Linked DNA regions of Homo sapiens. The protein of the gene in region 3 binds, or shares a complex with, the protein of the main gene of each other region. Each region holds a gene or a part of one and is shown on either strand. Other genes may lie near its edges. The genes, in order: DRC8, DRC3, DRC9 and DRC4.

What was found.
Region 1: DRC9 (region 3) and DRC8 share a complex: the UniProt entries of both Homo sapiens proteins name them as parts of the nexin-dynein regulatory complex.
Region 2: DRC9 (region 3) and DRC3 share a complex: the UniProt entries of both Homo sapiens proteins name them as parts of the nexin-dynein regulatory complex.
Region 4: DRC9 (region 3) and DRC4 share a complex: the UniProt entries of both Homo sapiens proteins name them as parts of the nexin-dynein regulatory complex.

What each region holds. Positions count from the first base shown.
Region 1 is NC_000001.11:245,083,554-245,088,794, forward strand, and holds the end of DRC8 (dynein regulatory complex protein 8), read left to right. Parts: intron 1-68; coding exon 69-135; intron 136-386; coding exon of another isoform or gene 387-415; exon of another isoform or gene 416-3,206; coding exon of another isoform or gene 3,207-3,241; exon of another isoform or gene 3,242-3,691; coding exon 3,692-3,807; 3' UTR 3,808-4,284; downstream 4,285-5,241. UniProt on the Homo sapiens protein: Component of the nexin-dynein regulatory complex (N-DRC), a key regulator of ciliary/flagellar motility which maintains the alignment and integrity of the distal axoneme and regulates microtubule sliding in motile axonemes.
Region 2 is NC_000017.11:17,967,845-17,976,399, reverse strand, and holds the start of DRC3 (dynein regulatory complex subunit 3), read right to left. Parts: upstream 3,539-8,555; 5' UTR 3,426-3,538; exon of another isoform or gene 3,301-3,425; intron 2,736-3,300; exon of another isoform or gene 2,647-2,735; intron 2,549-2,646; 5' UTR 2,438-2,548; intron 1-2,437. Other genes in the region: TOM1L2 (TOM1-like protein 2), read left to right, coding at 4,087-4,138. UniProt on the Homo sapiens protein: Component of the nexin-dynein regulatory complex (N-DRC) a key regulator of ciliary/flagellar motility which maintains the alignment and integrity of the distal axoneme and regulates microtubule sliding in motile axonemes.
Region 3 is NC_000003.12:197,887,713-197,894,712, reverse strand, and holds the end of DRC9 (dynein regulatory complex protein 9), read left to right. Parts: intron 1-1,953; coding exon 1,954-2,085; intron 2,086-3,165; coding exon 3,166-3,267; intron 3,268-4,998; coding exon 4,999-5,133; 3' UTR 5,134-5,636; downstream 5,637-7,000. UniProt on the Homo sapiens protein: Component of the nexin-dynein regulatory complex (N-DRC), a key regulator of ciliary/flagellar motility which maintains the alignment and integrity of the distal axoneme and regulates microtubule sliding in motile axonemes.
Region 4 is NC_000016.10:90,017,420-90,026,094, reverse strand, and holds the start of DRC4 (dynein regulatory complex subunit 4), read right to left. Parts: upstream 3,416-8,675; 5' UTR 3,374-3,415; coding exon 3,371-3,373; intron 1-3,370. UniProt on the Homo sapiens protein: Component of the nexin-dynein regulatory complex (N-DRC), a key regulator of ciliary/flagellar motility which maintains the alignment and integrity of the distal axoneme and regulates microtubule sliding in motile axonemes.

The DNA.
Region 1 (5,241 bases), on a different chromosome or scaffold from region 3:
AAAAATTTATCATGTAGAACTTATTCACCAAATGAAAAATATAATATCTATCTTTTCTTTTCCCCTAGGTTTTAGATTCAGCTAAACGTGGGTTTCTTACTAAGGACGAGCTGATCAAGTATATGACTGAAGAAGGTAAGTGTGATTTATTACTTATCACAATGACTTATGTGAGGAATTAATAATTTGTTAACAGTTATGCGAAAGTTATAGGGGATACTTTAAAATCAGTCATTCTGGTGAAAGTTATTTACTGTTCCTGCTATTTTGGCTTGGGGATGGTTTCTGTTCTGTGGGGGTTAAGAGGACAAAGAGTAGGGAAAGGGGAGATGGGTTGTTGTCTCGTAGAATTTTGTGAAGCACAGTGATTACTTCTATAATTTCAGGCATTGCATTCAGAGCATTTCCAGAATAAAAGATATGCCATCTGGAAAACATGAACTATCGATCACTGTAAATGAAGGCCTCTTCCTAGATTGAAGATTTGAATAAAGAATATAAAAATTCCGCCCCCCCCCCGGCGCCCCGGCTTTTTTTTTTTTGAGACGGATCCGGTCTTGCTCTGTCACCCAGGCTGGAGTGCAGTGGCGCGATCTTAGCTCACTGCAACCTCCGCCTCCTGGGTTCAAGTGATTCTCCTGCCTCAGCCTCCCGAGTAGCTGGGATTACAGGCACAGGCCACTGCGCCCAGCTAATTTTTTGTATTTTTAGTAGAGATGGGTTTCACCATGTTGGCCAGGCTGGTCTCGAACTTCTGACCTCAGGTGATCCACCCATCTTGGCTTCCCACAGTGCTGGTAAAAATTCCCTTTTAAAGAGCTTTTCTGTCAGTGAAGTTACAGATAATGTAGCCTCAATTGAATACTGAGGTCATTTTTAACACTAAAAATGTCCTTTTTTAATGTTAATTGAACCATATATATTTGTTTTGAACATGGCCCATCATACATATATGCATACACACACATAAAACCTGCACACTTATATATATATGCCAACATATTTCCTTTAGGAATTCTCTCTGCTAGGCTGATGTGTAAATTTGTTTACACTGAAGGTCAGTAGCCTGATGGACAGTCTCCTGAAACCATCCTCATATTGGTCCCCTTGCCTTCTCCCATACAAAGCTAGAGCTCTCTGGTTCACAGACTGGGTCCTGAATGACTCAGAGTTGCTAATCACTTGAGGCAGAATGAAAAGCGCAAGTGATTTTGAGTAGGGAAGACTAAGACTGCATCTACACGCACAACTGGTTTGACCATTCCAGCTTCATCCACCTTAAGGCGGAATACAGAGAGTGAGGGTCAGAATGGCAAGGCCGTCACAGCTGCCACCCAAGAACTCTGACGCCATTGTTAAAATTACCTTCGGGATTAATTCTGATGGGGATGTTACGACTTTCAAAGCATCAGCTTCTTCATCCTGAGGATTAGTCTAAAGAAAGTAAATCCTAGGTTATATATCAGGCAACATGAATTTAGTCAAAATGGCCCAAACAGTTAGATTTTCCTACTGTTGTGTGCCTACTATATGTTTAATATTTAGTAAGTGTAGTAAGGTATAATGATACTTAAATCTACTTCCTCTCTCAAGGATATTACAATCTTATTTGGGAAATAAAACTAACATAAAATAATTCACAATACAAGACAATAGAAAGCTAAATATCAGAAGATCAACTAGGGCTGGCCCAGCCTGGAAAACTTGGTTTGGGAAGACTTAAAGAGAAAATAGGTTTTTTGAGATGGTAGAATGTATATGGTTAAATTGTTGAGGGCAAAGGTAAACTCTTGTGCATTATAATTCTGTCACACATGGTAGATATCAACAAATGTTTGTTGAATGAATGAGTGAATGAGTAGATGATGAAGACCAGGTGAAGGGGCTAATGAGAGGGAGACATTATCGATGTGTAAAACAGTCTGAACAAAAATGGGGAGGTAGGAATGAACATGCTATTTCAGAGAGAAAATAAGCCTAGCTGGCCCAGAGGGTAATGTTGGCAAACAGCAGGAAATTAACTTCAGTAGACTTACTGGGACTAAATTGTGGAGTCCCAGGCTCAGGAGTTTGGAATTCATCCTGTGGGCGATGGAGAAGTATTACAGGCTTTTGAGCAGATGACTCACATGGTGTGTGAGTGATTGTGAGAAGGTTTTTCTGGTGCTGGTCGGTTTGTTAGATGCATAAGAAAGAGGTTGGACTAGGGAGGCCACTTAGAAGGTTATTTCAGCATTTTGAGGGCACCCAAATAAGGGCCTGACCTGGCAGTGGGAATGGCAATGGGAAGAAGGGATTGGTACAATAGGACTGTCTGTGGCAGGATCCATGGGTCATGATGAGTAACAGAGTGTAGGCGACAAAGCTGAGAGCTGAATCCAAAGTACCACCAAGGCTTTGCCCTCGATGGCGAGTATGATGGTAATGAGACTGACTCAAACAGAAAGGTCAGAACAGACCGCAGTGTATACAGAGACAGTGCGACCACGTGGTTTACTTGGAGGTGCTGTGTGATAATTTCGAAAATGGTATGTTTACAGAGAGTTCATGGTACTTAAAGATCAACTATTGAGTATCTCAGCGGACTAAGCATAGGACAGGTATGGTCAAATAAGAATACATATGTTTTCAATTATTCACTCAGCAAGTATTATTACAAACCTTCCACATATATGAACCAATATGTTTGGAAGTAATATGTAAGATGTAAATCTATACAAATCTAAGTTACGATTTAATATAACAGACCCATCAGCTAAGTGTAATAGCAGTTGACTAGTTTGGTAAAATAGGAGCTTAAGAATTGCTGCTTTGAGAGTCTCAGAATTCTACAAATTGTTTTTAAGTACATTTATGCTATATAACAATATGGATTCAAGCTACTTGCACATTCATCCTAATATCCACAAAGTATCAAACACACTAGTTTGAGAATATGCATTCCTACAGCCCTGGATGTCATATGATAAAATAAATCACACTGAATCAAGTTCCTACAAGATAGAAGTCCCTAAGTGTCCAGGAATGTGTATTGCATCAGACAGTGTTTAGCAGCCGGGAAGATCTCAGAACAATTTTTTAAACAAACACTTGCATGTTGCTGCTTCTATGCCAGGTACTGTTCTAAGTCCCATTCAAATCATAACACGTTTCATTCTCATGACAACCCTATGTGACAGGTGGTGTCGTTATCACCCCCATTCTAGAGACAGGTAAGCTAAGGTGGGGAGCTGTGAAGTGACTTGCTCAAGATCTCAGAGCTCGTGAGAGGCAGCCAGCATGTGGATCCAAACTTGTGCTTTAACCACTCAGTTATCTTCCTTCCATCTTTCATCAAATACTGGGGCTTCAAGTTAATCCTCTGGTAATTTCAAAAGTTTTAATCTAAATAAATAACCTTGTTCATGATGTCTGTATGTCTTCCTACTGTTTTGCCTGAAATGACGTGTTCTAGAGGTTGCTTGATCTATGACATCTGCAGGCTAAAAGAAGTCCAGAATCTACCAGGGTGTACAATAGCCTTGTCTTTGAACCTCTGGACTGTCGTGATGTCCTGGCTCTACAGCTCCAGGGAGCGTAACTAGTGGCACTGTGGGAGCTTGTGGGGCTCCATGGCTATTAAGCTGGCTAGTGGAAAGAGAAAAAAATCAGATGATCCTAAATGATAAATTTTCCTTTTTGTCTCTCTGAGGTGAGCCTTTTTCTCAAGAGGAAATGGAAGAAATGTTGTCTGCTGCAATTGATCCAGAATCAAATTCAATTAATTACAAGGACTATATAACAATGATGGTGATAGATGAAAATTAAATGTTCTAAAGATAATTTCTGATTGAAAGAACAATTTTAGAAATTGCTTGTTCTTGTTAATTTCACATCTTATCTTAGGATTCCTATATGTGATATTTAATACCTTGTGACATAACTATTTTAAGACACTTTGTTTTTAAAGATGATCGTAACACTTTAAACCAAATTTAGTATGTCTAGCCTTACAGAATGATAAATTACTATTTATTTAAAAACTATTCTTAAAACATTTTAACATTAGAATGGATTGTTGTTTATTTTCTACAATAAAACTCAGGTCACCTTCGAATTAATTAAGCTGACAAAATGAAAATGACTTAATTACCCAAGGTTTGGCATGTAAAGATCTTAAGAGGGGGCAGAACGAACCACTCGAAAACGAGTAGCAGTGTAATGAAGGCTTCTTTTTTAAACAATAACAAATGCTTCATCAATCTGAGTGTGGAAGGTGATTTATCAAAATAAATATTACTAATTTATTTTTTTATGAGTGCCAATTACAAATATCATTTGGGATAATAATAACTTAGTGTAAACATTTATATTTGCTGATCCAGCATGTCACCATTTATGGAGTAGCTAAAGGAGTTGAGATCATTGGAACTAGAGAAAAGAAGGTTGAGTGGAAGTTGATAGTGTAAGGTAGTGGCAATTCTCCCTTTGTCTTTAGAATTCTCACCCACTCCGCATATCTGTCATGGGAGCATTGTCCTGAATACTGAGTAAGAATACTGAGAAATGTTATGGTGTGCAAATGTACAGCTCCTGAAAGAGCAGAATGAAGCACAAGCAGTCACAATGGAAAAATATATGGCATGGCCACTGCCTCCTCCTTGCAATTCTCTCCGATCTTGGCATCTTATATGGCAACTATATGGCAACTTACAAGCAAAGGGGAAGATAAAGTAAAGGGAAGTGAACAATTTTCCAAACTTAGATATTCTGTTATAACAAGACACACACACACACACACACACACACACACACACGGGTCTCTATTTGAAGATGGCTTCACCACTATATGTGTGTATCTACATAGATGTAAACATTTAGAGTTGCTGTGAGCCTTCCTCAGGCATGTAGTCTTGCCCCCAAAAGAGGCGGCTGCTACCCAAGAGACTGTCGCTGTTCATTCATTCATGAAACACTGAAGGAGTACCATGAGATGATGTGCTGGGAACCGGAGTCCCTAACGAATCCAGGTCACAGTTTAGTGAGGGAAGCCTGCAAGGCAGTCAGCAGCCACATTTCAGATAGGGGCATGTTCAGGGTCCCGTGCAAGTGCCGAAGAGAGGCAGCTACTCAGCCTTGCAGGGAGAGAGCTTTCTGGAAGATGAAAGGTGCTAGTGAGCGGAGAAGGCTTCCCAGGACAGGAAGCTCCTGACTTTAAAACGAGTAGTTTAGTAAGTGGGTGGCGGGGCACAGGGCATTTCA
Region 2 (8,555 bases), on a different chromosome or scaffold from region 3:
CCTCCAGTAGATTCTGTTGCTAATGGTCCAGAGGGATTTGACTGAGACACCACAGCACAGGGGGGATCTGTAGATTTGGTCAGTCACAATGTGAGGCTGACTCCAGGCTGCCGTTCGTGGCTGGACCACATTCTCATCCTTATCAACCCTCTTGGTGAGGACATCCAGGAGGGATATTTTCCCCCACTTTCCACCCCTGATTCTTGCCTCCCTGCTGGCCCTACTTCCTATCTTTGTCTACATGCCTTCCCAGCATCTGGGCCTCCCTGAACCTCCTGTCCTTCTGCCCTGCTGGTCCCTGATGCTAGGCAGCCCCTGTGCTCTGTTTTTCATTCCACTGGGCACTGCTGGAGAAACTCCTGGTGCAGGGCTGATGGTGTCTGCTGAAAAGCCAGGTTGGGCCATACAATCCTGTTACCTGGTCTTAGAGACTTCCCTCTAAGACTGCCCTCCTCTTGCCTCCCTGACCATCCACTTGGATGCAGCTTCTGCAAATATGCATCCTCTGCCCTGAACTGTCCCTCATCAAATGTCCCAATGAGCTCTTGTGCACACTTCTCTCTTGCTTCCAGGGGAGGCATAGCCTCCACACCCTTCAACCCCTACCCCTTCTCCACCTGTGCCTTCCGTCCTCCCAAGACCTTGGTCCTTTTCCTCCCACTCTCTCCAATCTGTTCACACTGGCTCCACCTCGTTGGGGTGACTGATTCTACCCCCAAAGACAGTTCCAGACCTCGGCCTCTCTCTAGCTCCCCACTCTTATGCAATGGCTTCCCCTGCGGTTTCCCATAACTTGTCATCAACTTGTCTTTGGGGGAATTTTAATGTGTTATATTTGGCTGATGTTTTCTGCAAAGTGTTTGGCCTTTTTTTTGGGGGGGGGGTGGGGAGGTCAGGCGCGGTGGCTCACACTTGTAATCCCAGCACTTTGGGAGGCCGAGGTGGGCGGATCACAAGGTCAGGAGATCAAGACCATCCTGGCCAACATGGTGAAACCCTGACTTTATTAAAAATACAAAAATTAGCTGGGCATGGTGGCGCATGTCTGTAATCCCAGCTACTTGACAGGCTGAGGCAGGAGAATCGCTTGAACCAGGGAGTTGGAGGTTGCAGTGAGCCGAGATCGTGCACCACTGCACTCTAGCCTGGTGATAGAGCGAGACTCCATCAAGAAAAAAAAAAAAAAAAAGGTGCTATACTTTGGGAAATGACTCTTAATTTTGATTTCAAAACTTTAACTGACTTATCCCTCCTACTTCATCAGGGCCTGGTACCTGTGACAGATCAAGTTTGCTTTCAGTCAAGCCCAGCAATTGCTATGCTAGGAAATGGGGGATTGTTATTACATATGCTATTTGTTAAGCACATCAGAGCAGGATTTGGATCCTGACTGTGCATCTTTTGGCAACTCACTTCACCTATCTAAGCCTTGGCTTTCCCATCTGTAAAAGGTGGATAATTTCTCCCTTCTGCATTTGTGTGAGATCACGTATTTAGTCCACACATGGGTAGTGAGTAACTGCTATATGCTGTGAATAAAACAGACGGACTTTAACCCAGCTTCAGGCATGAATCAAACAATAATACAAATATTTAACTACAAACCATGACAATTTGTAGGTGTAGGGAACTATGAAATTGTACATTAGGGGCACCTGGCCTGGCCAAGGAAGACAGGGCTGATTGGAAGGACAAGCAGGAAAGAAGGAGGAGGTAACTTTGTGGAAAGGCCCTTTAGGTGGGAGAGAACAGACTTGTTGCACTTTGGCTGAAGTGATGCAAGTTTGGAGAGGTCTGTGGGAGTTTTGTTATTATCCTAGAATCCCTGGAAAGCACCTAGGGCTTAATAAGGGCAGCAACATTAGCTGGGCATGGTGGTGCATGCCTGTAGTCCCAGCTACCCTGGAGGCTGAGGCAGGAGAATCGCTTGAAACCGGGAGGCGGAGGTTGCGGTGAGCCGAGATCGTGCCATTGCACTCCAGCCTGGGCAACAAGAGCGAAACTCCATCTCAAAAAATAAAAAAAATAAGGGAAGCAATGTGATCAGATCTTAGTTTTTAAGAAGCTCACTCTAGCAACAGTACTGAGAATTGCAAAAGTACTGAGGTGAGAGATGACCAGGGTGTTAGCAAGATGTAGATGGGAGAAATTTCTAGAAACTTAATTTACATGTAGGGCTAATACTCACCAATATCCAGATAAGAAAACAGAAGCTAGTTAAAAAGGTTAATTAACATGCCCAACTTCATACACTTAGCACGTGGCAGAGTTCATTTTCCTAATCATGACTCAACTGTATCCAGGGTACTGGGGACTATCATTGCCACAGCTCACAGTGTTTCTCACAGTTGTCCTGGGTTCAGGGCCAAGGCCCAAACAGTCCTCTTCTATGGGGATCTTATAGTTTACCACCCAACCTGGGTCCCCTTTGACTTGCCTGATGATAGTGTTGTTGAAGACCAGAGAGGTTGGAGCTGGGGAAAGCAGCAGAGTTTTACACAACTGTCAACGGAGTGGCCTCCTCACAGATAACAGATCCAGAATTTTCCTGGGAAATGATAACCTGAAGTCAACAGGATCTGAAAACTATAGTCCCTATTGGCCATGAATTAATAAGGAGAAAATTGGTTGGGCGAGATGGCTTACACCTGTAATCCCAGCTCTTTGGGAGGCCGAGGTGGAAGGACTGCTTGAGTTCAGGAGTTCAAGACCAGCCCGGGCAACATAGGAAGACCCTGTCTCCATTTTTAAAAATAAAAAATAAATAAATAAATAAATAATGAACAAAATTTTTCTTAAAAAAGAATAAAATCAATCACTTACTGAATGCTTACTGTGTGCTCAGTGCACATGCATTATTTAAGTACATGTAAGCTCCGGAGGCCATAAAAAGGGAGTCCTAATGCCCTTATTTCCCAGCTAGGGAACCTGAGGCTCCAGGGAGGTAAAGGAACTTGTCCAAAGTCGTACAATGAGTTACTGACAGAGACGGATACAGAACTTGAGTAGCCGTATTCACATCCAAAGCGGTATATACAGTACCAAGATGAAATCATTTGATAGTTATGAGGTCAGTTATGATGGCTAAATTCTGGGAAAAGTTATCAGTGGACCGGGTACCTCTCTTTCTATGAAAGGAGGCTGGAAGACGGAACCCCTTAAAAATCCATTCTGGCCCTGCTCCCTCGGGAAATGCTTCCTTAGTATTTTTTTTTTTTTTTATTCAAAAGCTTGACAAGCCCAGGACTAAAGTGTCTTGGCTGTCTCACACGACTGTAAAGTGGCTGGGAGAGGACCTACGTGCTCATTTTATAAATGAGAAGGGCCGGGCCGGCGTTCTCCGAGAAAAAGGTCACAGGAAAGAGTTACGTCGGGCACTATCTGTCCCTGCAAGTCCTCCGGGAGCCTCAGCTCCCAGGTCTCACCTTCTCAAGCGCTGGGAACTCGGCGGTTCCACGCAGCAGACGCGTCTCCCGGTTGCTGGGGAACCAAGCGCCGCGACTTGGTTGCTAAGGGGAAGTCAGAAGGGAGACATCCTGGGTGAAAGTTGACAAGTCACGTGACCACATCTCCGTGTGGTGAAACACTCCTTACACCAACCAGCCGTAGAGAAAACAAATGTTTCTCCAATCAGTACTTTCTATGGGCGGGGATATTCCTAGATTCACCTCTGTTCCGTCCATTTGCGTGATTGACTCGTCTTTTGTCCAATAATAGTAAGAATCCTTTAGATTGACCAATATACAGAGGAATCAAAATGCGCAGCTTCCCCTTTGGGGGCGGGCCAGGGGAGGTGCCGCCACGGCTGACAGGGACTCCGGTGACCTAGCTCGCTCCTCCGCCCAATCGGACGCTGCGGGGTGGGTGGGGGCTTTGCTGACAGAGGTGTAACGACCAATAGGAGGCGGGCTTCGTAGGTGTCCCCCAATAGAGACGCGGCAAGGGGGCGGGGCCAAAGGCCCTAAGCTCGGCGTTCCAGAGAGTGGGGAGGGGGCAAGTGTCAGTCAGGACGGGAGTCCGGCGGGTTACAGCGGAGGCCTAGGTGGCAGACAGGGGGCCCGGGCCGCTGCGTGTTGTCCACCCAAGATGGAGTTCCTCCTGGGGAACCCGTTCAGCACACCAGTGGGGCAGTGCCTCGGTAAGGCCGCGTGTGGGGCAGGAGGCTGGGCAACGGCGGCCGCTGATCCGGCTGGTGAGGACCGCGGGCCTCCGCCGGGCGCCGGTGCCACTTCACGAGCGGGCTGGGCCTCCGCCAGCCGCGGGTGCCACTCCACGAGCGGGCTGGGCATCCTGGTCGTCGGGCCTTTGCCGGGCGCTTGTGCCACCTCACGGGCGGGCTGGGCATCCTGGTCGTCTGGCCTTCACTGGGCGTCGGTGCCACCTCACGGGCGGGTTGGGCATCCTGGTCGTCGGGCGTTCGCCGGGCGCCGGTGCCACCTCCCGGGGGGGCTGGGCCTTCGCCGGGTGCCGGTGCTATCCCACGGGCAGGCAGGGCATCTGTGTCCTCGGGCCTCCTCCCGGGCACTGGTGCCACCTCACGGGCGCGCCAGTGCCACTCTGCCAGGAGGCACCCCTGAGGCCCAACTTGGACTCGGAGATGCCCCAGGCTTCCCTGCCCATCAAGGCTCAGCCCTTCCTTTTGCTGCTAGAGGTGGTGCCAACTGCTGGTCTGCTTCCCCAATGCGCTTTGGGAGATGCCACTGCATGTGTCTTTATCCAGCCCAGCAGGCTCACTGCCACTGCCCCAAGGACCCAGTTCTCCCAAACCCTTTGTGGGATGTCACCTTCTTCTCCATCTTTGTCCCTCCTCTTCGGTACCAGCAACCCTCAGACTGGGCACCCTCCCAGAAATGCCCCCTGCTCCGGGACTTGCTAATTTGAGCTGCAACTCAGCTGTGCTGTAGGAGGGACTGGGATAGGAGGAGGGGCTCTTGGAGGGTGATTATCTTGGCAGGGGGATGGCATGCCTGCAGTGCCTCCCAGGAAAGAAGGGAGGCTGTGTTATTTAATGATAAGAGCCCTGGACTGGGAATCATGGAAGCCTGGACTCTAGCAGTGGTTTTGTCAGTGACTCCATATGACCTTGTGCCCTTTCTGGTTTGAAGTTCCCCTGTCTGTCAAAGTGTTTGGAGATGAGATGTGATAGATCCCTTAAAGTTCTCAAGTTTTGATATTCTTTGTAGTACTCTGCACATTGACTGTTGCTTCCTCCCCCACCTCATATTAAGTTTACCAAAGCTGAAATCTTTTGTTGGCAATGTAGAGAGAATGGTACTCAGCATTATCTGTTAATCCTATAGGGGGGATGTGGACACCTGGGGACACCAGAGATGGCCAGAATCATGGATAAGGAAAGCCCAAAGTGTAGGTAAAGGAATACTGAAATGGCCACCATATGGGACTTCCTTACTAAGAAAGCAACTTGCCTTTTTACCCAAGGCAGTGGCTTATGCCACTTGATCAGTCAAGAATGCTGATTAGTTTGTTTGAAAACTGGATTCCTCCTGGTTGGTTGAAGGACTGGTAAAACGTCTTTTATGAGCCAGGATCTTTGGTGTTCTTATGGGCCTGATTTCAGCAGTAGTGATTTGTTTATTTTCTGCTTTGCTTATGAAATTTTAGCTTACTTTCCAGCCTTTAGTGGAGCCTATAAACTTATTGAGGTCTCTCCTGTTGGCTAATTAGCATTTAGGAGCCTTTCTTTACTTTCTGGCGTAGTATCTTTTATAATGCATGAGGGACCCCAAAAGAGTGTTTTCCCACCTTTTTGACATCTTGTCTCTTGCTGCCCACTGGAGAGTCTCTGGATTCTCACTTCCTTACTTCTTCCCCATGTCCTTTTCCACTCTCTTCAGGTGCTCTTGCATGGCAGCCACACTCCAAAAACTAATTTCCAGCCAGTTAATGGAGGGAGCCAGAAAACTTGCGAGAATTGTTTTCCTTTCTGTCCCCTTTATAATAGGAAGCTCTACACCTTTAAAATGACAAGGTAGTAAATGAGGGGTAGAAGTTAAAGGGGATTTAAAATACAAATGTGGTTGGGTGCGGTGGCTCACGCCTGTAATCTCAGCACTTTGGGAGGTTGAGGCGGGCGGATCACAAGGTCAGGAGATCGAGACCATCTTGGCTAACACGGTGAAACCCCGTCTCTACTAAAAATCCAAAAAAAAAAAGAAAATTAGCCAGGCGTGGTGGCATGCGCCTGTAGTCCCAGCTACTCGGGAGGCTGAGGCAGGAGAATTGCTTGAACCCGGGAGGCGGAGTTTGCAGTGAGCTGAGATTGTGCCACTGCACTCCAGCCTGGGCGACAGAGTGAGACTCTGTCTCAAAAAACAAACAAACAACAACAACAACAACAAAAAACCAAATATAAGAGATATAGGGATATATAGCAAGTGGAAAGAGCTTGATACTTCTGTCAGGGAGACCTAAGTTGAATTTTGACCTGGCCCCCATTTCTTGGCTGTGTGACCCCAGAAAATTGTGTTGCTTTCTGAGGTTTAGTTTGTCAGTCTTCTGAGAGAGAGAGAGAGAGAGAGAAAGATTCCTATTCACAGAGTAATGTAGTTTAAATGAGATAATGTATGAAAACACTTAGCATAGTATCTGGAACATAGTAGAAGCTCAGTAAATTGAAACTGCCACTGTTAATAACAGAATATTTAAGTTAGGGTTGGATTTTCTATCTGGAGAGGATATGTGAAACAACTGGCCCGTCTGTGACCTGTGAAGGAAAATACCCTACCAGGCCCCAGGATTCACCATTGCTCATAAGATGCTTGACTAAAGATGATGATGGCTCCCCACTGCCAGGTAGCCAATAGGTCATTTCAGTTCAGTTCAGGTAAATGATTAATGGACAGAATTAGGTTCTAATGTATATTCCGTACTGTTGTGACAAAGTGTCAAAGTGACTTTCTTGATATTTAGTGTTGTTAGTATTCTTTTAAAAGAATGTGCGGGGGTGGGGGATTGGTGGGAGGGAGGGGGAATACAGAAATAAAATAACAACTACAAAGCTAATGATTAAAAACAGCAGCTGTAGGCTGGTTGTGGTGGCTCATGCCTGTAATCCCAGCACTTTGGGAGGCCAAGGTGGTGGATCACTTGAGGTCAGGAGTTGGAGGCCAGCCTGACCAATATGGTGAAACCCTGTCTCTACTAGTAATACAAAAATGAGCCGGGTGTGGTGGTGGGCGCCTGTAATCCCAGCTATTCAGGAGGCTGAGACAGGAGAATCGCTTGAACCTGGGAGGCAGAGGTTGCAGTGAGCCAAGATTGTGCCACCGCGCTCCAGCCTGGGCGACAGAGTGAGACTCTGTCTCCAAAAAAAAAAAAAAAAGGAGAGCTGGTCCCTCTCTGATCCCTGTCCTCAATGGATTTACGGTTTCAGGAGAGAAGACAGAGATGCATGAAACAATGAGTGGTGTAGATTGTAAGTGCTGAAGGAGTCAGAAACAATTCAGAAGAGGCTGGGGTGACAGGGACTGGCTTCTTTGAGTCTGAGGGCTGTTCATAAAGGATGGGTAGGAACTCTGCATGCAGAAAACAATATCATTGGGCCTAGGGACAGCTGAATGAGGCAGGGAGTGGGGCACAGGCACATCTGTGAGTACCAGTCTGAATGGAGCAGAGGTGGCTGTGGGGAGTGGTGGCAAGTAGGGTTTGGGCACAGGAGGAAGCCCTGCTCTGGATGGGTGGCATCAAAGACTACATTCTTTTTTTTTTTTTTTTTGAGATGGAGTCTCACTTCATCACCCAGGCTGGAGTGCAGTGGCACGATCTAAGCTCACTGCAACCTCCGCCCCACAAGTTCAAGCGATTCTCCTGTCTCAGCCTCCCAAGTAGCTGGGATTACTGGTGCCTGGCACCGTGCCGGGCTAATTTTTGTATTTTTAGTAGAGACAAGGTTTCACTACCTTGGCCAGGCTGGTCTTGAACTCCTGACCTCGTGATCCACCCTCCTTGGCCTCCCAAAGTGCTAGGATTATAGGAGTGAGCCATTGCGCCCGGCCCAAAGACTACGTTCTTTAACTGACTTCAACTTTTAGTCTCTTTGGACCTAATTTTCCCTGCTTATAAAATAATACTTCTCAACAGCTGCATGGGGCTTACACCTAAATAATTTTGTCTGTTCACTTCAGTAGGCAGTTATGAGTGCCTGTGGGGGGCCAGGCCTGTGCCAGGCTCTGGGGATACAAATATTAACAAGCTGCTCTTAGGGAGCCTTCGGTAGAGGTAACATGCTCACAAAAGGTGTCCTGGGTCTGTCTGAGCGGTTGGTGGAGTAATTCTTACTCTGTCTTATGCGTGGGCCTCATGTGAACATTCTAACCTGGTACGATTTAGTAGAACACTTAGCGTGTTCATCTCAAGTTAGCGGCTAAGACCACAGTCTGACATAGTTAACTGTGCATTTCTTGCATCCATCCCGCCCTTTATTCTGGAGGGCAGTTCCTGAGTAGAAAGCATGGTTTAGGGAGAGAGTAAGCTGGACAGGTGCGGTGGCTCACACCTGTAATCCAGCACTTTGGGAGGCCGTGGCGGGTGGATCA
Region 3 (7,000 bases):
CAATGTTTCACTCTTGAGGTGCATCGTCCCCGAGTCTGAAAGTTACACATTTCTGTTCTTTTAGGGGTAACCTTTAAATTTTTTGTTTCTAGAAAGTACACAAATATGGAATGCTTCACGAATCTGTGTGTCACTCTTGCGCAGGAGCCATGCTAATCATCTCTGTATTGTTCCAATTTTGGTATATATGTTACTGAAGTGAGCACAACTCTTAAAATGTTAACATATATTTTTATACTTTTAGAATTTCTCTGTCGAGAGTTAGTCAATGTTTATACCTTCTTTTGCCTTTATTAAGGCAAAGAGACTTCACTTACCTCTTCTCTCGCTCTTCATCCCATGTTGAAGTCATTCACTTTATATGTAAATATATATAGTGATAATATATATGCAGATATTATGTATATATATGCGCATTGTGGGTGGACTTCACAAGGATTATTTCAGCATCACAACAACCCTCTGAGGTTTGTACTATGACTGTAATAGTAATACTGTATTATTGGCTAGGTATAGAATTTTATATATGAGGGAACCAGAAGCTTAGAGAATTTAAGTAAACTTTCTTTCAGTGCCAGAGTTGTGCTCTTTCAACTAGACTATCCTGCCTACTTTGGGATTTTAATTCTGAATTATGATTTATGATTAAAAACTATCACATAGCTTAAATACATGTTTTACTGGTTCTCTTCCATTTCTTAATATATCTCTTTCATTTTATTTTGCTACAGTAGTACATCCTTGAATAACTCTCTCAGAAATATTGAGTATAGTCTTTCTTTCCTTTACATTTGAATGCTGGGTTGGCTATGTGTAGAATCTTTGATTCACATTCACTTGCTTTTCTTTCTTTTTCTTTTTTTTTGAGACGGAGTCTCACTCTGTCACCCAGGCTAGAGTGCTGTGGCGCAATCTTGGCTCACCGCAACCTCTGTCTCCCGGGTTCAAGAGATTCTCCTGCCTCAGCCTCCCGAGTAGCTGGGATTACAGGTGCCGGCTACCATGCCTGGCTTTTTTTTTTTTTTGTAGTTTTAGTAGAGGCAGGGTTTCACCGTGTTAGCCAGGATGGTCTCGATCTCCTGACTCTGTGATCTGCCCACCTCGGCCTCCCAAAGTGCTGGGATTCCAGACGTGAGCCACTGCGCCCGGCCCTACATTCATTTTCTTTTAGAATTTTGAATACATTGTATCCTTCTTGACTAGGATTTAGTGCTGTCAATCAAAGAGAGATCCGATGCTATTCCTTATCCTTCAGACTTTTCTACATACCTTTTGTTTCCTCTTCATTGCAACTTCCCTTATCCAGACATCTAGATTACCCTCCTCCCCCTATTTTTTTTTTTTTTTTTTTTTTTGAGACGGAGTTTTGCTATTATTGCCCAGGCTGGAGTGCAATGGCGCGATCTGGGCTTACCGCAACCTCCGCCTCCTGGGTTCAAGTGATTCTCCTGCCTCAGCCTCCCTAGTAGCTGGGATTACAGGTATGCGCCACCATGCCCAGCTAATTTTGTATTTTTAGTAGAGACGGGGCTTCTCCACGTTGGTCAGACTGGTCTCGAACTCCTGACCACAGGTGATCCGCCCACTTCAGCCTCCCAAAGTGCTGGGATTACAGGCGTGAGCCACCGCGCCTGGCCCCCTATTTTAAAATTCACTAACATACAAGTAAAATGTGTAAGTACTTAGTGTATAGTTTGATGAACAGTTATGTATACACATTCATGTAACCACCACCTGGATAAAGATACAGAGAACATTTACAGCATCCCAAAGTCCCCCTCACCCCCATTCCCAATCAGAAATCCAACTCTCCACCCAGGTAAGTAACTACTGTTCTGCCTTCTCTCACTATGGAATGTTCTGCTTAATCTTGAAACTCGTATAAGTGGAATCATACAGTATACAGCGTTTTGTGTCTGCTGAATGCCATGTTTTCATGTTCTTTCCAAATAGAAACTTGAGGAGAGGCTGGAGTTCTGGATGGAGAAATACGATAAGGACACAGAAATGAAACAGAATGAACTAAATGCTCTCAAAGCCACAAAGGCCAGTGACTTAGCACACCTTCAAGACCTGGCAAAGATGGTAAGGAAGGAATTAGGGCGCTCACTGAGGACAGAGTGAAAGGAATTAGGGTGCTCACTGAGGAGGGAGTGGAAGGAATTAGGGCACTCACTGAGGAGGGAGTGGAAGGAATCAGGGTGCTCACCGAGGAAGGAGTGGCAAATAGGCCACAGTAGCTGGGTATTGCTATTTGGGGTCAAAAGTAGAGGTGCGCTTATAAGCCACCAGGATTCTTTTTAGATGCTGCTGCTGCTGACGGGGACAGCTGCAGTAGCTAACTTACGTAGTGCCTACTCTGTCCAAGGTGCTACCCACACAGCCCCTTGAGACAGATACTGTGATTATTCTTAGTTTATGACCTCTGGAGAGAGTCAGTGATGATTTCTAACAAGCTTGTGATTATGGTTTCATTATGGAATAAATGCAGAACTTCCTAAATTTCTTTCAAAAGTCAGCTACTGCTGGGCATGGTGGCTAACGCCTATAATCCCAGCACTTTGGGAGGCCGAGGCGAGCAGATCAGTAGAGATCAGGAGTTTGAGACCAGCCTGGGTAACATGGCAAAACCCTATCTCTACTAAAAATACAAAAATTAGCCATGCATGGTGGCACGTGGCTGTAATTCCAGCTATTCAGGAGGCTGAGGCACAAGAATCACTTGAACCCAGAAGGCGGAGGTTGCAGTGAGCCAACACTGCGCCACTGCACTCCAGCCTGGGTGACAGACAGAGTGAGACTCTGTCTCAAAACAAACAAACAAACAAAAAAGACAGCTGACTACTTGTGTATGTACATTCTCCCAAAGTTTAAAAAACAATCCATATTATTTTGAGATCATTGATCACACATTAATTCATATTTCATTTTTTATAAAAGATAGAATTTAAATTTGAATTATTAAAACTGAAAAAGTTTTGGGAACAATTATAAAGTTAATATGTGAATATTTACCATCTAGGAATCTATTACATTTTTTTCTTTGGTTTATCTTTAGATTGAGCATGTTTTATTTTGAAATTTTATATTAAAAGTGCAGGGCTGGCTGGGCTACAGCTTAGCCAAGAGAGTACTATAATAAATGATGAATGTCTATCTTTGCAGATAAGAGAGTATGAACAGGTCATCATTGAAGATCGTATAGAAAAGGAGAGGAGCAAGAAGAAGGTAAAACAGGATCTCTTGGAATTAAAGAGCGTTATAAAGGTAAAGAACCATAATCAGTATCTCGCCACAGCTGGCTTAACACTGAGGAACACAAAAGCATTTCCAATTCATTATCAAACACATCTCAGTATATCAAGGAACTGCAGATCTGAGAAGAAGCATGGACTTTTGTTATTATTAGAATTTGCCAACAGTCCATGGTGCAGGGAGACAGTTAACATAGAAAAGGACGTGCCCCCAGCTCTTCATCTGGGGAAAAAGAGGTGGTTAGCAGCGGAAGCAAAACCTAGGCCAAGAGACGAAATATCAGATTACTATGTCTAACCAAAACCAGCTCTTGACAGAATGATTCTTTTTAATATCCTTCTACTTCTTAAAATCCTGCTTATACATCAGCCCAGACTATCTGCTGGGTTCTGATACAAGCTGCTTAGGTGGGAAGGATAAGCAGCAAGTTAGAAAAAAATAGAGATATTTTAGTTTTATGTGAACTTGTGTGTCTCAGTGATGATGAAACTGGCAGGTCACAGATCACGTGAAATACTCGCAAGCAAAAACTGAAAGCTGGACGGCACCTGTCTGGAGCTGGCCCTTCTCTCTGAAGGTCGAGGCCCTAGTGGGTACACTGTAGTTTGGGTTGTATATTAGGGTGATCTAAAATAGTTAAGTTTTATACCACATTCTGGACCAGGTATCCAGACCCAAAGTTGGGCTTCCCATAAGGAGTCAGATGTGTAAGTAGCAAGTATTTATCAAGTTTCAATGGTGTTTCCCCATAAAACTTGTCAGTATTCCTGAATTTACAACAAACATGTTAAGAACGAGCTGAAGAGCACGTTTGCTTTCTTTTCACTAGTGGATTTGCTTCCAGTCTTTAGGGTTTAGTCTGACTTTAAAGCAGTAGAGACCGTATTGAGAACAACTGTTATCTAAAACCAAGATATTCAAGAAAGCTAACTAAATCTTTTTTAAAAGTACTAGGACAACTGATCTTTTAAGCAATCACTAAAGATATGAAATGCACAAGCAAGCCTATGAAAGTCATCTAGACTTATCTGTGCTTTTCTTTTTTTTTTTTTTGAGACAGCATCTCACTTTGTCACTCAGGCTGGAGTGCAGTGGCGCAATCTCTGCTCACTGCAACCTCTGCTTCCCGGGCTCAAGAGATCCTCCTGCCTCAGCCTCCCAAACAGCTGGGACTATAGGCACAAGCCACCAGGCCTGACTAATTTTTTTTCTTTTTTGTATTTTTGTAGAGACAGGGTCTTGCCATGTTGCCCAGGCTGGTCTCAAACCCTTGAGCTCAAAGTGATCTGCCCACCTCAGCCTCCCAAAGTGCTGGGACTACAGGCATGAGCCACCGCACCTGGCATTATCTGTGCATTTTTGGCCGAGTGCTTTTGCCCTTGGCCCAGGTAACTAACATTCTTTTTGGTTCAAATAGCTGTTAAGTATGGGGAACCTGGACTTTCCTCAAGGAAAGCAGTATAAGGAAGTCAGATTTCTACGGGTGAAGAAAAAATAGGTCAAATCAGATTCCTTTTCTTTATTTTTACTTGAGAACTTCACTCTTGAGTCCATGGCTTAAGCTCCGGGTCCTGCACGACAGGAGAGCATCGCTGAAGTGATTACGTGCCTGGCTACTTCCATGTCCTGGAGAGAGACTGTTTGTCAGACAGAAGTTACTTTATTCAACAGTCCCTTTATGTGGAAAGAATGCAGCTTGTCAGGCATAGCATACGTCGTACTCACTCCCCTTTTCTCTTCCAGCTCCAGGCCTGGTGGCGAGGCACTATGATACGGAGAGAAATTGGTGGTTTCAAGATGCCTAAAGACAAAGTTGATAGCAAGGATTCAAAAGGCAAAGGTAAAGGCAAGGATAAGAGGAGAGGCAAGAAGAAGTGACCAAGTTCTCTTTTGTGTTTTCTGCTGGTATTCTGGAGGTGGGAAGGACTTGGAGAGAGTTAAGAAACACCTGGTACCTCAAAGATGACTCATCTACAGGTTGTTTCCTATTGAGACTTTCCCAGGGAAGCCTGATTTCACTTTGCCTGTTAATTTCACTCTGCCTGTTAGGTGGGTTTTCAAACCCTGATTTAGGATTACACCATTGACTTAGGGCTTCCTCATACCTTGCTGGGAAGAAGTTTCTAGTAGTCCTGTGAAGATTCATTCTTCTTGCTCTTTCTCAGCAGAACAAAGGAGTTCACTGGCTTAGCTACAGTGACGCATTGAAACTTGAGTAATTCCTGTAATGTCAGATTTTGATTTTACCCAATTTGTCTGTAGTGAAAAAACTCTTATGAGCAAAAGTATTCAGTAGGAATTACAATATGATGTTATTAGCTGTCCAGCATAATATATACACAGCAAAGTTTTAATAAATGTTGGTTCCTGCCTGCCTTTTAGATTTATCGTCACTTTGGTGTTTTTATTCAGGTGAAAATGGCATGGAATACATATCCAGTTGTAAGCTGCTTCAGCAACTTTTCTAGGAAACAGGGATACAAATTATAAATACAAGCTAGAAATAGGATGTTAGGATATACAACTTTACAAACTATAAAGATGGGGACACAGGTTCTCTGGAAGGCTAGTTTGGAGATATTTTTGACAAGTGAAACACTAGAGCCACCAATCCCCACTTTATGGAGTGTTAAGATGAAAAGAAATCAGGTGTGTGAAAATATCTAACTTGTGCCTGGCAAATAGGAAAGCTGTCACTCTCCCTCTTCTCCTAGAAAAAAAATGCACCCACCAGATCATGCTTGCCTTGATGAGTCAAAACAATGCCTTGGGATGCTAAAGGTTTCCAAGAGCAAAGTTGTCCTAATGTGTCACATACATTTCATGAATTAAGCCTTCTATCTAACTCCAAATAAAGCTCAGTCTTGATATCTGTACTTCCTTAAAAAATGAATTTGATCTCAAAAGTTTGTCCCGAAGCCCCCATTTCCACTGACATTCCCTCTGGAAATGAGATGCTCTTTCCTTGATTCACCTTTGCCAAGGGAACCACACCTCAGGTATGAACACGCTCCAATCAGCTTTTATTACACGCCACTGAAGTGTTGGCTTTTATTTGAATGTCAATGTGTAAAGTGGCGTACAGGCAATTTAAAATAACATACATGATACTGACATATTTATACTTAGAACTTATGCAATATATTTACAGACAAAAATACAGGACAATGTTTTACAAAATCTTTCACTAATTACATGTTTACAACATTTTCAGAAATAAAACGAAATTTGCTGTAAACCATCTCAACTGCACTGTGTATATAGAAAGGCTTCTAAATATCCATGTTTTCATTTCTATAACCATTTAAGCGCTTAGTTTTTACGAATTCATCAAACTCATTCGCATAGTCACACATCATTAGTCACTGCTGAGCTGTAGAAAGTAAGAGAAATCGCAAACTCCTTGATTAGCTGTATTTTAAAAAGCTCTTCAGAAAAGTGATCTACTACTATGCTCTGTGTTCTAGCAGAATACAAAGGCCCCTCTTTCCATGGGTCGTTTCCAGACCTGGCTATTACAAGAGAACACTGGAGTGCTAAACACAGATTATGAGTCTGAAATACTGGGAAACTGCTGACAGAAAATCTCTGTACGTGGCAAGGGCTCTGCTGGGGGTGGCTCTCAACCCGACACTGTCAGTGATGGGAAGGGCTCTGCTAGGGGGGGCTCTCAGCCCCAGACACTGTCAGTGATGGGAAGGGCTCTGCTGGGGGGCTCTCAGCCCCAGACACTGTCAGTGATGGG
Region 4 (8,675 bases), on a different chromosome or scaffold from region 3:
AGCTGGAGTGCAGTGGTGTGATCACATAGCTCACTGCAGACTCCAATTCCTGGGCTCAACTGATACTCCCACCTCAGCCTCCCAAGGAGCTGGGACCACAGGAGTTCACTGCTGCTGTGCCCAGCTATGTAACGTTTTTAAAATTACAAATTTCATGTGGAAATTTTATTTATTTTTTAAAAACATTAAAACCTAAATCCATTTATCTTTTTTTTTTTTTTTTTGAGATGGAGTCTCCCTCGTCATCCAGGCTGCCTTGGCTCACTGCAACCTCCACCTCTTGGGTTCAAACAATTCTCCTGCCTCAGCCTCCACGAGGAGCTGGGACTACAGGTGCCCGCCACCACGCCTGGCTAATTTTTTTTTGTATTTTAGTAGAGACGAGGTTTCACCATGTTGGCCAGGCTGGTCTTGAACTCTCTTTTTTTTTTTTTTTTTTTTTTTTGAGACAGAGTCTTGCTCTGTTGCCCAGGCTGGAGTGCAATGGTGCGATCTCAGCTCACTGCAACCTCCGCCTCCCGGATTCAAGCCATTCTCCTGCCTCAGCCTCCTGAGTAGCTGGGATTACAGGTGCCCACCACCACGTCCGGCTAATTTTTTGTATTTTTAGTAGAGACGGGGTTTCACTATGTTGGCCAGGCTGTACTCGAACTCCTGACCCGTGATCTGCCCACCTAAGCCTCCCAAAGTGCTGGGATTACAGGCGTGAGCCACCGCGACTGGCCCATTTATCTTCATTTATGTTTCATTTAGTCCTGAATGAAAACATTAGGTGGAGCCAGGCACAGTGGCTCACACCTGTCATCCCAGCACTTTGGGAGGCTGAGGCGGGCGGATCACTTGAGGTCAGCAGTTCAAGACCAGCCTGGCCAACATGGTGAAACCCTGTCTCTACTAAAAATACAAAAAAATTAGCCAGGCGTGGTGGCGGGCACCTGTAGTCCCAGGTACTCGGGAGGCCGAGGCAGGAGAATCGCTTGAACCCAGGTGGCAGAGGTTGCAGTGAGCCAAGATCATGCCACTGCACTCCAGCCTGGGTGACAGGGTAAGACTCTACCTCAAAAAAAAAAAAAAAAAGAGAGAGAGAAAATATTATGTGGAAATTTTAGAAAACACTGATGAGAAGAAAACAGAAATATCACCCATATTCCTTGGTCCAAGGATCCAACAGACCAAGGCCCATATTCCCACAACCTAACAGAAACAGAAGTAGTTTGGTTGTGTTTAGTGTTTGCTGTTGTGTTTGCTGTTGCATTTTTTTGTTTTTTGTTTTTGTTTTTGTTTTTTTTGAGATGGAGTCTTGCTCTGTCACCCAGGCTGGAGTGCAGTGGTGCAATCCTGGCTCACTGCAACTGGAACAGGAATTAAAAGAAATTAAAAAGTGTGTAAGCAGAAACTCAGTTATATATAAGAAAACCCAACTCCCCCTGAAAAAGAGAAAGAGCTGGAGTCCTTTAAAAATTAACTGCCTGTTTTTCTGCGGCTAGTGAGCCTTGTCTCTCCTCCCTTCCCAGGCATTGTGAAGACCCTGATTCTGTAGCTGTGCGGCTGCAAGGTCACTAGGCAGATAAACTCAAGTCGCAAAACATGTTTTTCCTTAAAAAGTAAGAAATGATGTAATGCATGTTTCAACTGAACAACTGCCTTTATTTCTCACATCTGAAGCATGCTTCCCCCTGCACAGATCTCCCTCTGCCCCACGAAAAGCTTAAAAGGTAACTTAACTCTTTGTTCAGGGCTCAGTCCTTTGGATTTTAATCTGACTGGGCCGGTGCACCTAAATAATTAATAAATATCCTCCTGAACCCCATCGGTCTCTCTAATTCCTTAAAAATCCCACTACACAACCTCTACCTTCCAGGTTCAAGAAATTCTCCTGCCTCAGCCTCCCAAGTAGCTGGGACTATAGGTGCGTACCACCACACCCGGCTAATTTTGTGTGTGTGTGTGTGTGAGTGTGTGTGTGTGTGTATTTTTAGTAAAGACAGGGTTTCACCATGTTGGCCAGGCTGGTCTCCAACTCCTGGCCTCAAGTGATCCACCCACCTTGGACTCCTAAAGTGCTGGGTTTACAGGCGTCAGCCACTACACCCTGCTTTTTTTTTTTTTTTTTAAGAGACGTGTTGCCAGGCTGGAGTGCGGTGGTGCGATCTCGGCTCGCTGCAACCTCCGCCTCCCAGGTCCAAGTGATTCTCCTGCCTCAGCCTCCCGAGTAGCTGGAACTACAGGCACACGCCACCACACCCAGCTAATTTTTGTATGTTTAATAGATATGGATTTTCACCATGTTGGCCAGGATGGTCTGGATCTCCTGACCTCATGATCCGCCTGCCTCGGCCTCCCAAAGTGATGGGATTACAGGCGTGAGCCACCGCGCCCAGACTCCTGGCCTAGTTTGGTAGTTTCTTTCATAGTCGGTTTTCAGAAGACCCTTCCTGGGTCAGAAAACCCATCTACTTAAATTTAATTCGTAATGTACTGCTCTCTTTTTAATCCCTCCACTCCAAGAAGGCTACCTCATCACAAAGCCCTGAAGGCAGTGGAGGAAGGTTCAGCATTACTTAGCATTTGGGACCTTCACAGCCAGCTGCAGGGACTTGGTGGGGCTCCCAGAGCTTTCCTCCCCCCACCAGCTGAAACCCACCCTGCCACACCTGCCCAGAAATTGAGTTACTGACAATTCCTGTACCACAAAGGGAGAGCCCTTTACAAGAGAAAGACAGACATGGAGCTGATGAGGCCACGAGCTCCGCCTTCCTCTTCTCGGTCTGGGCCTGACTCCTGCCAGGCTTTCCAAGGGAACAGTGGTTCCTGTATCCCAAGGTTGTGCCCTGGGCACTCCAAGGGCACTGGACCTGTCCGGGCCTCCTTGGTGTAGAGGGATCTCTAGCCACTCTGGTGTGCCCCAGGCTCTCCATCCGGGAGACCAAAGGTCTTAGGGTAATTCCTGCCTCCGGCTCTATTCCATGGGGACCCTGGTGCTCTGCAAAGCCTCGTGAGCTGAAACCCTAGGTCCCAGGGATCCAACAGACCGAGTCTGCCATTCCAGGATGAGAGTCCCCTTGACGCATGTTCACTCTTCTGGGGACCGTGCGCCGCCGACCCCGGGCCCTGGGCGTTCTATGACCACCCCTGTGAGCACAGGGCTCTGGACAGCCCAGGTCTCAGTCCCGAGTGCTGCCAGGCCCCGGGGCCGGGAGCATCCTGAGTTTGCCCCACGGAGACCCCCACAAGAGCACCGAGCTCTCAATTCCAGAAACCCAGCGCTCCAGGCCTCCCATTCCCAGGGTCTCCGTGTACCGAGGCCTCCCTGCCCCGAGGTCTCCGGGCCCCTGCCGAGGACCCCAGCCCCGCTCCCGCCCCTGCTCACCATGACGCCAGCGGACAGGCCCAGCGGCGACTCCGGGACCAGGGCGCCCGCCCCCGGAAGCCACGCCGTTTCCCGGCAACCGCTGGGCGATGCCGCGATAAGTCACAAGATCCTCGCGAGACTCCGCCGGGCAGCGGCCCTGCCAAAGGCGGGAGTGCGTCCCTAGAGACGGGCGTCCGGAAGGAACCCGGTTGTGAACGTTGGGAAAATGTCGCCGGCAGCCCAGAAGCCTTTCGCTGCAGGGCATGTTTTGCTTATTGCTGGAACCTAAGCTCCACGAGGGGGGAACCCTTCACTTCTATCCTTCAGCGCCTAGAACAGCACACAGCACGTGCTCAGTAAAGACGTGCTGATGAAGGACCATTGAAGGAATGATCAATCAGCCACCCAAGCCTCTGAAACTTTCCCCAAATGAGATTCAAATCTGGGCAAACACTCTATCCCCTGGGCCTCACTCACCCCACCCGCCCACCTTTGAAGGGCCCTCCCAGCTGCTGCGCTGGTGGGTTTACACACACCTCAAAAACGCAGAAATCGGAAAGAAAAATACGTTCCAGTTTAGTTCCAAATGTTTGAAATCAGTAAGTATTCCTTTCACAAAAATAAACTGCTCTTCCTGAAGAGGCCTCCTCCCCACTCCTCACGGATGAAAAGAAACCAGAGGCTTCCCGACAGGCCCTGCAGAAAACAAACAGCTGCCACTTTCCTTTTCTAACTAATCTCTTGTTCTGAAAACTGCTAGCCATTTTACAATTTCTAAAATGAATCTGCCATCCGTGAAACCACCCTGTTACCTACATACAACCATCTATGTCACCCAGAAAGCTGAGTTTGTCATAAACAGGTGCTTTTTTTTTTTTTTTTTTTTGGAGACAGGGTCTCCTTCTGTCGCCTAGGCTGTGATCACAACTCACTGCAGCCTCGACCTCCTGGGCTCAAGCAATCCTCCCACCTCAGCCTCCTGAGAAGCCAGGACTACAGGTGTGAGACACCATACCCAGCTTTTTTTTTTAAGTTTTTAATAGAGACGGGGTCTTGCTTTATTGCCCAGAGTGGTCTCAAACTCCTGGCCTCAAGTGATCCTCCTGCCTCGGCCTCCCAAAGTGCTGGGAGCACGTGAGCCCCACGCCCAGCCCTAAGCTCTCATCTTTAACATCTTCTTAAAAAGTGGTCATCTACTTGGGAGGTTGAGGTGGGAGAATCGTTTGAGCCCTGGAGGTGGAGGTTGCAGTGAGCCAAGATCACACCACTTCACTCCAGCCTAGGTAACAGAATGAGACCTGAGACCCTGTCTCAAAAAAAAAAAGAAAAGGTCTTGTAGCAGATCTTGTTCTCCCATGTGTCTGGGGATGAAGAGTACAGAATCCATGCTCGTAGAAAGTTGTGCTGGGGGCAAAGTGTGAGAAATGAAAGAAGGCCTGGTGGACCTAGGTCTTCCTGTCCAGCTGGGGGAGGAAGTTGCCACATGAGCTGGGTTTGCTCAGGCCTCAGGCACCCACACAGTGGTGGGAATCTGAGAACCACTGTGATGAGAGACTTCCTGTTTGCCCACCTAAGTCCTGATTGTTCTTGGAGAGGAGCAGCCAGTTGGAAGAACTGCATTGGCTCAGCTTGCACAAAGCAGTGATTTATTTATAGTAAGCCCTGAGGCCTCTGTGAAGTCTGGCTGGTCACTGTGCCTGGGCAACCAGGAGCCAGCATCACTGTGCCAGACTCCCTTGGCCTGAGAGGGGCCTCCTCCCCCTGGGACAGGGTGGTCAGACAGTGACGCTGGAGAGCACAGTGGGGGTAATTATTATAATTTAACACTTACTTCACAAAACCAATATGCTAGCAGCTTCATGCTGATTGGCTTTTTGCTTCAGAAGTCTGGATGAGTGTCCTGAATTAAATAGCTGTATTAACAATAATTCCTTTCAGCAAAAAGGGCAAGAATAGGAGGGTTAGCTCAGGATAGCCTAGACAGGGTACTCATTTTTCACAAGCTAAGAGCAATCCTGGTCTGTCGGTGTGGGCTGCAGAGATGAATCATTCAGGGAGCCCTGAATTGCGGCTCCCTGGGATCCCGACAGGGCCCACTGCGACCTGTTCTTTTCATATTGAATTCGAGTTCAGATTTTTAGAAAAGAGCCTTTTCTTCACATATGTGGCTTAAGATACTTTCATTCAGTGTCAAGCTGTGCAGCTCAGAAACCCAGATAAATGGCATCTGAGTTTCCTGCAAAATCCCAGAGCAAATGTTAATACAAACAAACCGACTGCCCTCTGTCTGATGTCTGATGCTTCCTGCCACCCACTATCCACCAGGTAAACCGCCTCAGGCCACGGCATCAACTCAGTGAAGGCCTGGATGCTGGGTTAACAAGAGTGTTTATGAAGACTAGACTTTTTCTTTTCTTTTCTTTTCTTTTTTTTTTTTGAGACATACAATCATAGCTCACGGCAGCCTTGGACTCCTGAGCTCAAGCTGTGCTCCCACCTCAGCCTCCCAAAGGGCTGGGATTACAGGCATGAGTCAATGCTCCTGCAAACGGACTTTCTTTGAGAGATAAATATTGAAGTACTTACAAATGCAATGATCTAATGTGTATATAATTTGCTTCAAAATGACCCAGCAGTGGAGGGAAGTGAATGAGGACAGAGAAGCAGTGGCCCAGGCCAGGAGCTGGCAATCGCTGAATCTGGGCGATAGGGACATGGGGGTCAGTTTCATCGAAACTGCCTTGGCGCTCTCTGCAGCCCGGGCCCGCCGCCCTCTCCTTACCTCCCATCCCCCATCCCGCCCCTTCCAGCCTCCCAAGCACACGCCCTCGCCCCCACCCGCCCCCCGCGTTAATTCGCGCCATCCAGGGCGCTCTGTGAGTCTGTCATTACCCAGCGCGAGTCAGGCCCCTCCTGTGCCCCTCGCCAGCCCCGAGGGGCGCCCGCACACAGTCGGCGCCCCACACGCAAGTACCTGGAAGAGAACAAGAGGACGCCAGCGGGCGCGGCCGCCAAGTGAGTGCGCAGGAGCCCCGGACGCCCGGCCGGGGTCGGGAGGGCGCAGCCAGGTCCCGGTGGTGTCCGCGGCGGGGCGCGGCCCGCGAGGGAAGGGTCGGCGGGGGAGGGGTCCGCTGGGCCAGGGGCCAGCAGGGGGCGCGCGCGGGCCGGGGCGGGGCCGCACCTGTCCTGCGGCTGGGGGGGCGCCGGGAGGGGGCCGGGGCCCGGGAGCAGCTGCGCGCCCCGCCCCGCCCCGCGGGCTCCTCCCTGCCGCCGCGGCCCCCCGGTTGCTGCCCCGATGCGCTGCGCCCGGAGCCGGGGCCGAGTCGCTGCCGCAGCTGTTGGGGCGCCCGGGCCAGGCGACGCCGCCGTCGCCCGTGCCCCTCCCAGACCGCACCGGCCGCATGGAGCCCCCGGAGGGCGCCGGCACCGGAGGTGAGTTCAGCCCCAGCCCCCGAGACCCCCGCGCAGCGCTTCCCCGCAGCGAGCCGCAGCCCCTCCCCCCAGGGCTCACCCTTCGCCGCTCCCGGGAGTCGCGAAGACCCCTTTGGCAGCTCGGGGTCGTCCGGCGGGCCAGGGGCACCTCCCGGGCGCGGTCCCCGCGCGGGGCTGGGGGCACACGGACCGAGTCTCCGCCCCCTTGTTCTCTGCGCTCCCGGCCCGGGAAGCCGTGCCCGGCACGCTCCTTGGTGGGTGGCCCGGAGTTTCGTCCTGAGCCCCCTCCCAGCCAAGCCAGCCGGTGACCCGGGGAGCGGGGGAGGGGGGTTCCGGGGCTGGAGTTTGGGGTCCCTGTCGGTGGGGCGTGAGGGCGACGCTGGCCGCTTGCAAGCGCGTCCGCTTTGTTCGCCCAGCCGCGAGTCCCGGGGGGCGAGGGCCGTAGACTCGCGGGCAGGGATCCTGCCAGGGGCGAGGGGCTGAGATGGGTCTTGGGGATGTGGGGCATGCACGGGCGCGGCCTGCCGGGGACTCCAGAGCTGCAAGGGTGGCTGGTCCGGGAGTGGCCCAGGCGCACGCTCATCGGGGAGGGTAGGTGCGCGTGGAGCGCTCCCTGCCCTGATGGTGGAGGCCCTACTGCAGGACCTTGGAGTCGGTAACGGGAAGAAAGCTCTCAGAACCTCCCCCCTTCCCGATCAGAGACTTTTCCAAAAGGGCTTTCGGGGTTCCATTTGCCTAGGTAGGAACTTGGATGCAAACTGCAGACTCCTCCACCTGCCCAGCCAAGCCCACCACCTCCTGGTTTCCTAGAGCTCCCATTCCAGGGAGCCAGCAGGTGCCTGAGGGCACAGGCAGGCCAGCCTGCCGCTCTGGAACTACATGGGAACCTCTCAGTCCCCCAGCCGCACACAGTGGCATCCTCTGGAGCCCGAAGGGCTGTCCCCGGGAGGAGCAGGTCCACCCACCCTGTGTATCTGCAGTCCAAGGTATAGGGACAAATGCCCCAGGGCTGGTGGGTTTGGGTTTTGATTTGTCATTTGTGGGAGGGACCAGAGCTCTTTCTTAACACTGATAGTCCCAGGCTCCTGGGTATTCCCAGTAGCAGCTTTGTGGACATAGGAAGCCTGGAGGTTGGGAGTGAGGGCTTGGGGGTCTCCGAGCTGTTTCCAGCTGTGAACTGTGGGCAGTCAGGCCCCTGTGAGCCTCAATTTCCATTTCTGTCAGTGGAGACAGTTCTGCTTCCCCTGCAGGGCTGTGGGAGCCCAAGGCATTTGGGAGTGGAGGTTAATATGTTTTCCCTCCTCCTTTGGGAAAAAAGGAGGACTTCCCAGCAGCTTAAAAGGCAGAGAAAGCAGGTTCAGTTTCTGAGCCCATCAGTCACTGGCTGGGGGCTTCAGACACCTGACTCAATCAGTGCACAGGTATTTACCTACAGGTCGCAGCTCTGTGCAGTACCCTGCCTGGGGTGGGGAGTTAGTGGGAAGACAGGGCCCTGTCCTCTGAGGGCTCACGCTCTTGACACCAACTCCTGTTTCCTTGTCTGCAAAGTGGCCAGTGATGCCTACTTTGTGGAACCTCATGAGATCACACATTGGTGACTCTGTCATTACTTATCACTTACTTTTGAAAACCTTACAAAAGTAGAGAGAACGGCGGGACAAAGGCCCATGTGTGACATCCCAGCCCCCAGGCCCACAGCCTCCTCTCCAGACTACCACCAACCTCCCTTCATTAGTGGTTTGAACCAAATCTAGACATATTATTTCACTGATAAATAATTCAGAAATATCTGTAAAATATGATTTTTTTTTTTTTTGAGACGGAGTCTCGCTCTGTTGCCCAGGCCGGAGTGCAGTGGCGCGATCTCGGCTCACTGCAACCTCCACCTCCC